3 separate regions of the Homo sapiens genome follow, and all the other regions are linked to region 2. The links come from fine-mapping of genetic effects on gene expression. A gene starts in region 2. Each other region holds a variant in brackets. All regions are shown on one strand. Distances are between the middles of the regions. Region 1 has its middle 45 kb from the start of GMPR. Region 2 holds the start of GMPR (guanosine monophosphate reductase). Region 3 overlaps GMPR (guanosine monophosphate reductase).

What was found.
Region 1: its variant is fine-mapped to the expression of GMPR in aorta (GTEx, PIP above 0.99).
Region 3: its variant is fine-mapped to the expression of GMPR in whole blood (TOPMed, PIP above 0.99).

The regions. Positions count from the first base shown.
Region 1 is chr6:16,191,452-16,195,800 of GRCh38, reverse strand. No RefSeq gene overlaps it. Among named protein-coding and RNA genes, the nearest start is that of GMPR, 45 kb to the left of the region's middle. The variant G/A (reference allele first, on the strand shown) is at 2,044.
Region 2 is chr6:16,236,363-16,240,654 of GRCh38, reverse strand. GMPR (guanosine monophosphate reductase) reads right to left here and starts at 2,068. Exons shown (of 9, transcript NM_006877.4): 1 at 1,875-2,068. The coding sequence starts at 1,961. RefSeq lists silencers at 1,966-2,065, 2,186-2,285.
Region 3 is chr6:16,288,618-16,292,617 of GRCh38, reverse strand. It overlaps GMPR (guanosine monophosphate reductase), which reads right to left. Exons shown (of 9, transcript NM_006877.4): 8 at 1,997-2,156. Among named protein-coding and RNA genes, the nearest start is that of GMPR, 52 kb to the right of the region's middle. The variant A/GTA (reference allele first, on the strand shown) is at 2,001.

The DNA of each region.
Region 1 (4,349 bases), 45 kb after region 2:
CTGCTTCAGCCTCCTGAGTAGTTGAAACTTCAAGCTTGGGTCACTGTACCTGGCTTCTCCCAATTATTTTGAAGCAACCCTTAGACACCATATAATTTTATTTGAAATATTTTAGTATGTATCTCTGAAGACTCTATTTTAAATGTAATTACATCATCATCTTATCCCCCAAATTGTAATTCTAATTCTTTAATATCCATGTTCCTATTTTCCTGATTATCTATAAATGTTCTGGTTCTAATTTGCTTTGTTGTTTTTTGTTTTAAAGTGCATTTGAAATAGGATCCACAAAGCTCTATATATTACTGTTGGCTAATAATAAGTTCTTAAGTTTCTCTCTCTTTTTAAAATATTTAAATAGGGTCACGCTATGTTCCCCAGGCTGGTCTTCAACTCCTGGGCTCAAGAGATCCTCCCACCTCAGCCTCCCAAAGTGTTAGGATTACAGGTGTGAGTCATCATGCCCAATCCTCAAGTCTCTTTTAATGTAAATATTCTCCCTCCTTACATTTGTCTTTCATTCTTGTGATTGTTGTTGTATAGAAGAAATAGACCCTTTGTCCTGAGTTTCTCATAGTGTGGATTTTTCTGATTTCATCCCCACAGTGTTGCTTAACATGCTCCTCTGTCCTCTGTATTTTCTGTTAGATACAGGTGCTTGAACAGATTTTTTTTTTTTTTGCAAGACTATTATATAGGTAGTGTGGAATACTTCCATCAAGAATCATAAAATGTCACTTTCTAAATGTTACCAGCCATTGTTGATCATTGCTGAGAAACATTAATTCCTTAATGATTCAAATAGTGATATTTTAATTATTTCTTCTTCATTTGTTGGGTAGATTACTTATGTAAAAAGAAACTTGCCCTTGTTAAATATTTGGTTACACTGAGATACAGTTCATATAAAAAATGAAAGAAAAAAATGCTTGATTCTTTCTCCCTATTGATCAGTTTTCAAAATAGTGCATCGGTTCCCTAGAGCCTCTAAAGAATACCAAATGTGTTTCTGTTTCAGTGTTATTATAAACCAATGGATTTAAATACAGTCCATGTGTTTCAACAAATATTTTCTATTTGTTTACATCCATTTTAATTCTTCTCTTTATTGATGCTCAAATTTGTTCCTCTTTGCTCAATAAGAGCTCTTCAGCCTTAAAAAACGATCCCAGTCATTTTCCTGCCATGTGGTATGACAAGATGTTCTATGCTCATCTTGTACATTTCCAGCTCCAGATATCAAATCAGCCATTTCTCCAAAGTGCCCTGGTTTCTTTTAGTGGGAAATGGTATTTAGAAACCACAATCTAAATATGACATTTCTGAGTTTAATATAGACAAAATCTCCTCAGGCTTCACTTATTTCATATGACAAAAAGCAAAAACCAAAACACCTTATTTGAACTTGGTCAATTTATTTTCTTACTTTCAATTTTCTCATTTGTAAAATGCAGATGATAATAATCCTTGCTTATAGGTTTTGGTGCAGATTAAACAAGTCAATACATGTAAAGCATTTAGAATAGCACCTGTGCAAGCGAGCGCTTAATAAATGTTAATGATGATGGTGATTGAACACAGCATTAGCTTTATAATCAGATCTCGATATATGGTGATTGATTTTAAGATCAAAATATTCTTCTTTGACAACTAACAACTCTCCTTGATTATCCATCCAGACATCCCAAATTCACTTGACCTGCTTTCAGCATTCACATTATTGCAGCGGGGTTCAATGGAAGAAGTCAAGGAGAAAGAGCAACCAACTTCAAAGTTATTTTTTGCTTCTTGGAAGACCATCTGCTGTCATGACCCATTTCACGACATGCAAATTCATCAGCTGAGCTCAATTTCCCTTGAATCAGTGGCCCAGTAAATATAATTACTCTGCTAATTTTAAATTCCAAATGGTCAGCTCAGGTTAAAGAATGCTCATTCAGCAGTTGAAATTCTATAACGAATTGAGAAAACAGAGGGTCTACATGCCAGGATTTTGACAGAGAAGCAGGGAACAATTTTGTTTCTTGTCACCTCCTAGGCCAC[G/A]GGCACACAACAAATAGGAACATTTCCAAATATTTTCCTCTGAATTTTTTTTGTGTGTATGTGTTTGAAATAGGAACTTGACACTTCAGAGAATGGGTAAGGAAATGTGTCTTCACAAACCTGGACTTTTCAAGACTAGGCTGATCTCTTTAAGAGGAATGGGGTGGTTGGTTCTAGAATAAACTATTCAAAGCCCACATTAAAAATAAAGTAATTTGTGACAATGAAACGTTTTCGAAATAATGCATTTGTTCCCTAGAGCCTCTAAGGAACATCAGTGTGTTATTGGACTGGATAATGTACCAAAAACTGCTTTAAAGGATATTATTAGGACAATTATTAGGACATCAGTGTGTTATTGGACTGGATAATGTACCAAAAACTGCTTTAAAGGATATTATTAGGACAATTGGTAAATTTGGCATAAGATTATAGATTAAGGTATTATGTCAATATTAAGTTATCTGAATTTTATTACTTTCTTGTTCTTAGAAAATATACACTGAAAAAATATACGCTGAGGAGTAAAGGGTCATGAAGTCTGCAAAGTACTTTTAAATGACCCAGAAAAACTTAATGTGTGTGTCTGTGCAGACAGAGAGAGTGAGGAGAGAGTGCATGCACACACAAGAGCTCAAGTGTGTCAAAATGTTAAAAATGGATATGGTGAATTTGGGTAAAGGGAATAGGGGAGTTCTCTATAGAATCCTTGACAGTCTGTTATAAATTTAAAATTATTTCTAAATAAAATGTTTGTTTTTGCTTGTTTTTTTTGAGACAGAGTCTCGTTCTGTCACCCAGGCTGGAGTGCAGTGGCGCGATCTCGGCTCACTGCAAGCTCTGCCTCCCGGGTTCACACCATTTTCCTGCCTCAGCCTCCCGAGTACCTGGGACGACAGGCACCTACCACCATGCCCGGCTAATTTTTTTGTATTTTTAGTAGAGACAGGGTTTCACCGTGTTAGCCAGGATAGTCTCAATCTCCTGACCTCGTGATCCGCCCACCTCGGCCTCCCAAAGTGCTGGGATTACAGATGTGGGCCACTGCACCTGGCTAATTTTTTGTATTTTTAGTAGAGATGGGGTTTCACCTTGTTAGCCAGGATGGTCTCGCTCTCCTGACCTCGTGATTCGCCTGCCTCAGCCTCCCAAAGTGCTGAGATTACAGGCATGAACCACCGCGCCCAGCCAGAAAGGATTTTTAAACCTAGTGTTATCCCAGCAGCTGAGTGCACTGGCTCATGCTCGTAATCCCAGCTACTCAGGAGGCTGGGGAGGGAGGATCACTTGAGCCCAAGTGTTCAAGATCAGCCTGGGCAACATAGTGGGATCTTCTCTCTTCAAAAAATAAATAAAATGAAATATATTATTACCCCATTAAAACACACTTTCTCCAGCTGGGTGTGGTAGCTTATCCCTATAATCCTAGCACTTTGGGAAGCCGAGGTGGGCGGATTGCCTGAGCTCAGCAGTTCAAGACCAGCCTGGGCAACATAGTGAGATCGCCCGTCTCTATTAAAAATACAAAAAATTAGCCAGGCATGGTGGTGCACGCCTGTGGTCCTAGCTACCTGTGAGGCTGAGACAGGAGAATTGCTTGAACTCAGGAGGCGGAGGTTGCAGTGAGCTGAGATTGCACCACTGCACCCCTGCCTGGGTGACAGAGTGAGACCCTGTCTCCAAAAAAACAAAACAAAACAAAAAAACACACTTTCTCCAAGATTGTTCCTGTGTGTGTCCCTGATGAGACTGCCTTGCCTGCTTACAGGTCAGAGGTGTGTAGGACAGGATTCCTCCACTGAGTTAGAGATGGTCTTGGATAAGAGGTAGCAAAACCAGGCTATGCCCAATAATCAATTTAGAAACCTTAAAATTAAGATTCCCAGTGTCCTGCCTTTAAGCTTTTGTAAAGAAGGCCCAGAGAGGGCCCCAGGAATCTGTATTTGGAAATCACTAACCAAATAATTCTCATGTAGCCTGTGTACAGACCAACACATGAGGAATACCAGACTAGACAACCTCTAGAATCCCTTTGAGTTTTAAAGCATCAGATTTTATCAGCTGCTAGGTTAGTGTTGTTTAACACAAAATGTGATAAGTTCAGACAAAAAAAGGACTGTACACAGGAAGGGGAACATCACACACCGGGGACTGTTGTGGGGTGGGGGGAGGGGGGAGGGATAGCATTGGGAGATATATCTAATGCTAAATGACGAGTTAATGGGTGCAGCACACCAACATGGCACATGTATACATATGTAACAAACCTGCACGTTGTGCACATGTATCCTAAAACTTAAAGTATA
Region 2 (4,292 bases):
TCTATTACATAAATTTCATTTTAGCTTTAGAGACAGGGTTGTCCAGGCTGAAGTGCAGTGGCACCATCATAGCTCACTGTAACCTCCAGCTCCTGGGCTCAAGCCATCCTCCCGCCTCAGCCTTCCAAGTAGCTGGGACTACAGGTGAGCACCACTGCCCTAATTTTTTAAATTTTTGTTGTAATCTCCAGCTCGTGGGCTCAAGCCATCCTCCCGCCTCAGCCTTCCAAATAGCTGGGACTAGAGGTGTGCACAACTGCCCTGGCTGATTTTTTAAATTTTTGTAGAGCTGAGGTCTTGCTTTGTTGCCTAGGCTGGCCTCGAACTCCTGGCCTCAAGCAATCCTTCCACCTCAGGTTCCTAAAGTGCTGGGATTACAGGTGTGAGCTACTGTGCCTGGCCCTATTACATTAATGTTCAATATTTTACCTTCTCAACATGTTTTCTGGTTCAGAAAATAGGTATATCTTTGTTTTGAACATCCAATTTTCTGAAAAATGAGTTTCTCTCTTCTAAATACATTTTGAATATTTAAAGAATATTGAGGCCACCAAATTATTAGCACATCCAGAATCCCCCTATTTCATCTTGGTCTTGCCTTAGGAATTGGCTACAGCTCATGCTTCCAGAGGCCCAGGCCTGCCCTCCAAACTGTTTTTGTTCCAAGAGAGGCCCCCTCTTTAGCACCTGAAAGGTCATGAGGGACAGGCACAGGGTCACCCAATCTGGGGCGATAAGTTTTAATCATTCCTCCCCTACGTCCTCCAGTCCTGCCGGGCTCCAAACCAGCCAATGCTGCTGCTTACAGAAGGCCACTTGGTTTAGTCATTGGCTAACGCGGAGGCTTCCCCAATCCAAGCAAGCCCTCGGCTGGCAGCCCCAGGCACTGCAGTTAGGCCTGGCACCGGAGTGGGCAGCGGACTTCTTTGCTGAGGGGATTTATTTATGGTCTTGTTTGTGGAGCTGAGTGGACGGAGCTGTGCAGGTTGGCCCAGCCTCCTCGTGTTTACTCCTTCAGCCCCAGCCTTCAACCGTGTCCGGTTTCCTCACCTTCCTCTCCAGCTCTCAGCAAAGCCAGTCACCAGCGCACACCACCCCGGGGCACTCTGCCTTTCAGGCAACTAGTTTATCCTTCAGGGACTGGCCTCCCTTCCCCCAGCCTCAGGCTATTTCCAGTCCGGTCTCCACCTGTTCCTTAGGATTTGAGGACATCCAGGCAGAACCAGGGAAATGCCCGAGGCTTCCAATTCGCCCCCACCTCTCTCACCCCAAAGCTTTCGAAACTCTTCTCCAGGGCTAGGCTGGGACCGCGGGCTGTCCAGTACCGCTGAGTCCCCAAGCCCCACTGCCAGCAAGGCCGCCAAACTCAGAAAGGAAACCCTGAACTTGTGCCCTGGGTTCTGGTTTTTCAGACGCGTTCACGAAGTTCCACCGCTGGACCCGAAGCGAAAGCAGCAGCAATTATCAGCACTAGGAGACGCAGCCAAAAATCACCGGGATCTGCAGTTGTTTTTCTCGTCCTCTCTCCCCTAGCTCCAGTTTCCTTTTCTTGCTATAAGCGCCCTCGTACCCCTATTCCTTCTAAACCAACTGGCCACTGGATCTCGCTCATCTGTGGTCGAGTTTCACTGTGAACTTCCCCTAGGCCACCCAACGGGACCGACGTGTAGAGAATTTCATGGGCCCCCGTATCACCGCCCTTAAAGACACCTCACGTCCTGGCAGGTGCTGGGGCGCGGGAACGGGGGCGCAGCGCCCCAGTCTCAAACACCAAAGCAGGCAGGGTAACCCGGTGCCACCCCCTTCCACCCACTTGCCCCGCGCCACCCGGAAAAAAAAATCCCACCCCACTGCGACTTCCGAACGTCCCCCACCTCGGCTCGGCTCTTGAGGCTGCTCCGCTTAGGTCGGAGCAGGACATCCTTGAAGTCGAGCTTGAGGTCCGCATCTATGCGGGGCATGGTGCAGCGGCTCCTGGCTGCGGCGGCGGCGACGGCGGGGCGGGGGCGCCTGCGCGGGGCGGCGCGGGGAGCGCCGGGGCTGCTGTGCCGCGGCCGGGAGCTGGCGTGGGCCGGGTGCGCACGCCGCGGTCTTAAACACGCCCCGCCGACCCGCGGTCACGCTTGGCCCGCCCCGGGCACCGCCTCCGCCTCAGGCAGGGGTTGAGAGGCAGACTGGTTAGGGACAGATTGGCGGCGAAGCCCTTCCTCCTCGCGCCGCCGCCCCCGTCCTTCCCCCTCAGGTGTACAGCCCGTGGCAGTGACCGAATGGGGACGGGGGAGGGAAATGCGCACCGTTCTGTTTGTCCCCAGGGTCCCCGATGGAGAGGGGACTTAGCGTGTGGCTGCCTTATCCAAGGGAAAAGTCGCTCCCTGAGAGCTTTTACTTTTTTTTTTTTTTTTTTGAGACAGTCTCACTGTCGCTCAGGCTGGAGTGAGTGGCGCTATCGCCGCTCATCGCAGCCTCGACTTCCTGGGCTCAAACGATTCTCATGCCTCAGCCTCCTCGAGTACAGGCGCACGCCGCCACACCCAGCTTATTTTAAAAATTATTTCCTAGAGGCGGGGTTTCACCATATTGCCCAAGCTGGTCTCGAGCCCCTGACCTCAAGTGATCCGCCTGCCTCGGCCTCCCAAAGTGCTGGGATTACAGGCGTGAGCCACCGTGCCCGGCGGATTCTCCTTTTTTAAAATTCAAGCCCGGTGTGCTCACCCAGTGTTGAGGAGCACGTCTCTCACTTGCCAAAGAACCAGAAACCCCAGGGAGGTTGTATAGAATTAAGGAAAAGAACGTGGGCAGTTAACTGTTTAGCTGTACTGGGATTGTGGAGGCCATGATTCCCTTTGGACTTGTTGTTAAGAGACAAGGTCTCACTGTGTTGCCCAGGCTGGTCTTGAACTACTGGGTTCAAGCAATCCTCCCGCCTCAGCTTCCCAGTGTTGGGACTACTGGCGTGAGCCACTGCGCCCAGCCTGGATTTCAGGATTTTTGTTTAAGAAAAACAGTGAGGTCTGTAGTCGACGCAGATCCTGAGATTTGAGGAGCCTGAGTCCCCTCTGAGGGTTACCAGTGATGTGAGTTCGAGGGGTTACCAGTGATGTGAGTTCATTGATTCACTTATTGACCTTACCGACCTTTTATTATACATTTGAAATGTGCTGCCGGGCTTCATGCATCATCTCATTCACTCTCAGAACAACCCAATGAAGAAAGAGCCATTTCACAGATAAGGAAAAACGAGGCTTCTATAAATGAAATAACTTGCCTAAGGCCGCAGAAAAATTCAATATAAATTTCTCAGTCCTTAAAACTTGCTACAACTATTCACTGAAGCTGCTTTTGTCCTGGAACATCTCTGCCTGAGTTTGAAACCTGGTTCCACCACTGTCTAGCTAGGTGACCTTAGGGGAGTCAATTTCTCTAAGTCTCAGTTTTCTCATAAAAGGGGTGGGGGCAGGAGGGGGGGTTAACCCTATCTCCTCCCTGGTTTTTGTGAGAATTAAAGTGTGTGTGTTTATGTAAGCACAATGTCTGTCCCATAGTAGTTGCTCAATGCATGGTAGTTACAGATTTGTAGTCACATGTTACATTATGTGCATTGTGTTTGTATTTTCAAACTAGAATGCTAACTGCACAAAGGCAAGAATCATCTTTCATTCTCTTCCATTTTTCTGCAGCCTCGAACTGAGCTAGCAACTGTTCTCCTTGAGCTAGCATGTGATAAGGCTGACCATAAAAGATACATCACAATATTCAATTTAACACAAATGTCTGAAGATGATAAAGGTCTCAGCCCATCCCACATGGTTTCATTAGCTATACCCCAAAGGAAGTTCATGAAGTTTCAGGGAAGGAAATGAAACTTATCAGAGAGAATGAAAGTAGCCACAATTAGTCCAGCCCATGCAATGTTTATAACCCTTGACGAATTCTTGGGAGCTGGCCAGATGTGCTGCTTATTTGTGAAGTACGGAAAGGAAACCTAATTCTGATCTTTTAAAGATTAAATAGAGGTAAAATATAATTACTAGATGGTATGATTATTTTTAAATTATTATCCTTAAAGGGAAGAGAAACTGACCTTGTTAAGCATCTGCCAGCGTGGATGAGGGCTTTATTCATTGTTTCATACATGGTCTTAAAGGAGAAGCTTCTGTAGGTTGTCCTTGCTCTTTCCCTCTGGTTCTCTTTCTTTCTGGCTAGCCCTCCTTTTATTAGAATAGACAGAGAAGTTCATTTTACACATTCCATTCCCTCTCCCTCTGGAACATTCCTCTATAACTGCCCTCTTC
Region 3 (4,000 bases), 52 kb before region 2:
CTGGTAAAGCACGAAGCTTCTTGAACATAGGTCCAGCTTAGTGCCTCCTCCTTACCCAACCATGCAACCTCCTCCTCTATCAGGGACCGCTTGGGGGAAAGAGGGCCTCGGGGGCTACCTGGAAGGAGTGAATCCCTCATTTCTGATTGGTGCAGTCCCCATCGATCTTTCCCATCCTGCTTTTCCCATACTATAATATCTTTATTGGGGTTCACCACCAAGAGAAAGAGACTTGAGGAGAATGAGAACTGAAGTAAGTCCGCTAGAACCCCACGGATGAATAGAACTCTGGTAGAATACACCCCACTCCCCCCAATCCCCCCACCTACAAATCTCAGTGGAGTTCTGAGATTTTGCTGCTAGCTTGGTATGAACCTTATATAATACATCTGAATCCCAGGTCCTCAAAATGACCCTCTGGGTGTGGAATGAGTGGTAGGAAATAAAGGGTGTCAGTCAGGGAGGGCTTAGGTTTCCACTCCAGCACCGGATAGAGTCTGAAAATTGGAGGGAGAAGCCTGAACTTTCCTGGAAAAAGGCAACCAGCCGATTCACAGGCAACTTCCCTCTGCAGATGGAGAACCTTTGCTCCTGTACCCATTTTGTATAGCTTGTCATCGGCGCTAACCCTGATGAGAGTAACAGTAGGCTCTATGGAGCAGGGTGAGGCAGCGAGTATACTGTCATCAGGTTCTTTTTTTTTTTTTTTGGCAGGGTATCACTCTGTTGCCCAGGCTGGAGCACAGTGGCACGATCATAGCTCACTGCAGCCTCCAACTCCTGGGCTTAAGCCATCTTCCTGCCTCAGCCTCCTGAGCTGCTGGGAGTACAGTCATGTGACACCACACCCAGCTAATTTTTAATTTTTTTGTAGAGACAGGGTCTTGCTATGTTGCCTAGGCTCATCTGGAACTCCCGGTCTCAAGCAGTCCTCCAACCTTGGCTGCTGGAAGCACTGGGATTACAAGCATGAGCCACTGTGCCTGGCCCCATCATCAGGTTCTTAAAACACACATGCAGACAGTTAAAATGGAAGGGAATCAGGAAAAGACCCAGGTGTCTTTGGAGACCATGGATTAAAAACATGCATCAGGAGCCAGGTGCGGTGGCTCATGCCTATAATCCCAGCACTTTGGGAGGTCGAGGTGGGTGGATCACTGGAAGTCAGGAGTTCGAGACCAGCCTGGCCAACATGACGAAACCCCATCTTTACTAAAAATACAAAAAATAGCTGGACATGATGGGGGGTACCTGTAATCCCAGTTATTCGGGAGGCTGAGGCAGGATAATCACTTGAACCCGGGAGGCAGAGGTTACAGTGAGCTGACATCACACCACTGCACTCCAGCCTGGGCGACAGAGCACGACTCCACCACAAAAAAATAAAAATAAAAAATAAAAAATAAACACACATCAGCAGAAGTAAGCCCCACTTCTACAGTGGATGACACAACTGAATGGCTGAAAATGCTGCTGTGTCGGCTCTCGGAGCCTGGAGGAAGGTGAGAAGCGGTATGAGCTGTATGCAGCATTCTTCAGGAAAGGCCTGGCCACCGTGCAGTGGTCTAGACCACACCTATGGCTTTCTGTGCAAGAGGAGAGCCATTCTTCAACTCAATCCTTTCAGCCTGAACTCTTCTCAAGCCAGAGATCTAAGCTTACAGGGATAGCTCAGCACAGGCTCTACTGGAAGGACAAGACAATAATTCCACCTACCCCCAGAGGTCTGAAGTATTCCCTTCAGGACTGGCACCCACTCACATATAACCCTGGTCACACTTCCAACCCATCACCAAACACTGCTGCTCTGTACTTGCTTTTGGGAACCCCAAACACTGCAAATGCTAACTGGATACAAATTAGGGGTCTTTAAAAAGAACCCCTTCCCACGGTACTTTAATATACACAGAGCTGCTATTCAGACCTGCTTCCATCCCATCTCCGTAAGAAAAGCAAGGCCAGGCCTCGAGGGTGCGCCCCGGGGTCACCTCCTCACCTGT[A/GTA]CTCAGCAACTCCTCCTGCGTGCTTGTTCATGGCGGTGTCAGAGCTCATCCCGTAGAAGAGCTTGAGCTTCCGTCCGTTCCTCTCAAACACTTCTCCAGCACACTCCGTATGACCCGAAAACATTCCTCCCAGCATGACAAAATCTGCTCCAGCTCCTAAATGCCAACGGTGGGGATGAAAGCGAGTAGCAGAGAAAACAGCTCAGGGGAAAAGGCTCTCAAAAAATCCCAGTGCTTGCCCAGTTCACCTCCCTCCCCGCCCAGCTATAGTCAAGAGAAAGGCTGGACCTCTCTCGCCTGTCTCCTCCTGGAAAAAGGGAGAAGGCTTCCATGCAGGGAGAAAGGGCCATGGGACACTGCGAGAAACAAATGCAGCCTACTGAAGGCTAGTGTCCCATATACTGGACCATGCTGAATGGCTTTTAATGGCTAACTACGACCACCTTCCTCAGATCTAACTCTCTTAGAATCACAGAAACATTAAGATTGGGGAGTATTCTGCCAGGCACAGTGGCTCAGCCCTGTAATCCTAGCACTTTGGGAGGCTGAGGCAGGTGAATCACTTGAGATCAGGAGTTCAAGACCAGCCTGGCCAACATGATAAAACCCCATTTCTACTAAAAATACAAAAATTAGCCGGAAATCGCTTGAACCCCGGAGGTGGAGGTTGCAGTGAGCCGAGATCATGCCACTGCACTCCAACCTGGGCAACAGAGGGAGACTCCGTCTCACAAAAAAAAAAAAAAAAAAAAAAAAAAAAAAAAAAAAATTGGGCAGTATCTTAGAAAGCAAGTTACCTAATCTTGTACTTAATGCTATGACTCCTCTATGATACCCCCTCAGGTGTCTGGTCTGTACTTGAAGCTCTCCACACTCTGACACTCCCTGTGCTTATACATCAGGAAAAAGCCTCAGAACAGACTGAAGCTCCTACACTAGACAGCTTCAAGGAAAGAAGTCCCCGTGTTATGGAAGTCGTCTAAAACTCCACCCGCACCATGCTGCTGCACATTAGATTTCCAGAGTACATATTCTGCCAGACTAATCACCGAATGACAGCACATTTCCAGGACAGGCACAGGAGACAGAGGTACTGAAGCTGCCTGTCTTTGTGGGCTATGCTGGAACAGGCCCAGGGCTGGTTCTATGTTGATCCAAAGTGCACAGCACATGATAGACGCTGAATGATTAGCTGTCAAAAAAGTAAAAACGTGGGAAAAAAAGTTATCATTCCCCATTTTGTTCATGGATCACTGTGCAGTGGGATTCTTCATTGCCTATTAACTAAGGAACTGCTACTGTGTTCGGAACTGGTGGGTTCTTGGTCTCACTGACTTCAAGAATGAAGCCATAGACTCTCACTGTGAGTGTAACAGCTCTATAAGGTGGCGCGGCTGAGGCTTTTTCCTTCTGGTGGGGTTGGGGTCTGCGCTAGCTCAAAAATGAAGCTATAGACCTTCCCGGCAAATAGCACAGCTCATAAAAGCAGTGTGGGCCTAAAGACCGAGCAGCAACAGAATCTATTGCAAAGAGCGAAACAACAAATCACCCTCCCAAAGAAAAGGAGCCAGAAGGGTTTGCCACTGCTGGCTCCGGCAGCCTGCTTTTATTCTCTTATCTGGCCCCACCCATATCCTGCTGATTGGTAGAGTGAGTGGTCTGTTTTGTCAGGGCGCTGATTGGTGTGTTTACAATCCCTGAGCTAGACACAAAGGTTCTCCACGTCCCCACCAGATTAGCTAGATACAGAGTGTGGATTGGTGCATTCACAAAACCTGAGCTAGACACAGGATGCTGGTTGGTGTGTTTACAAACCTTGAGCTAGATACAGAGTGCCCATTGGTGTATTTACAATCCCTGAGTTAGACATAAAGGTTCTCCACGTCCCCACCAGACTGAGGAGCCCAGCTGGCTTCATCCAGTGGATCCGCACTGGGGCTGCAGATGGAGCTGCCCACCAGTCCCACGCCCTGCGCCTGCACTCCTCAGCCCTTGCATGG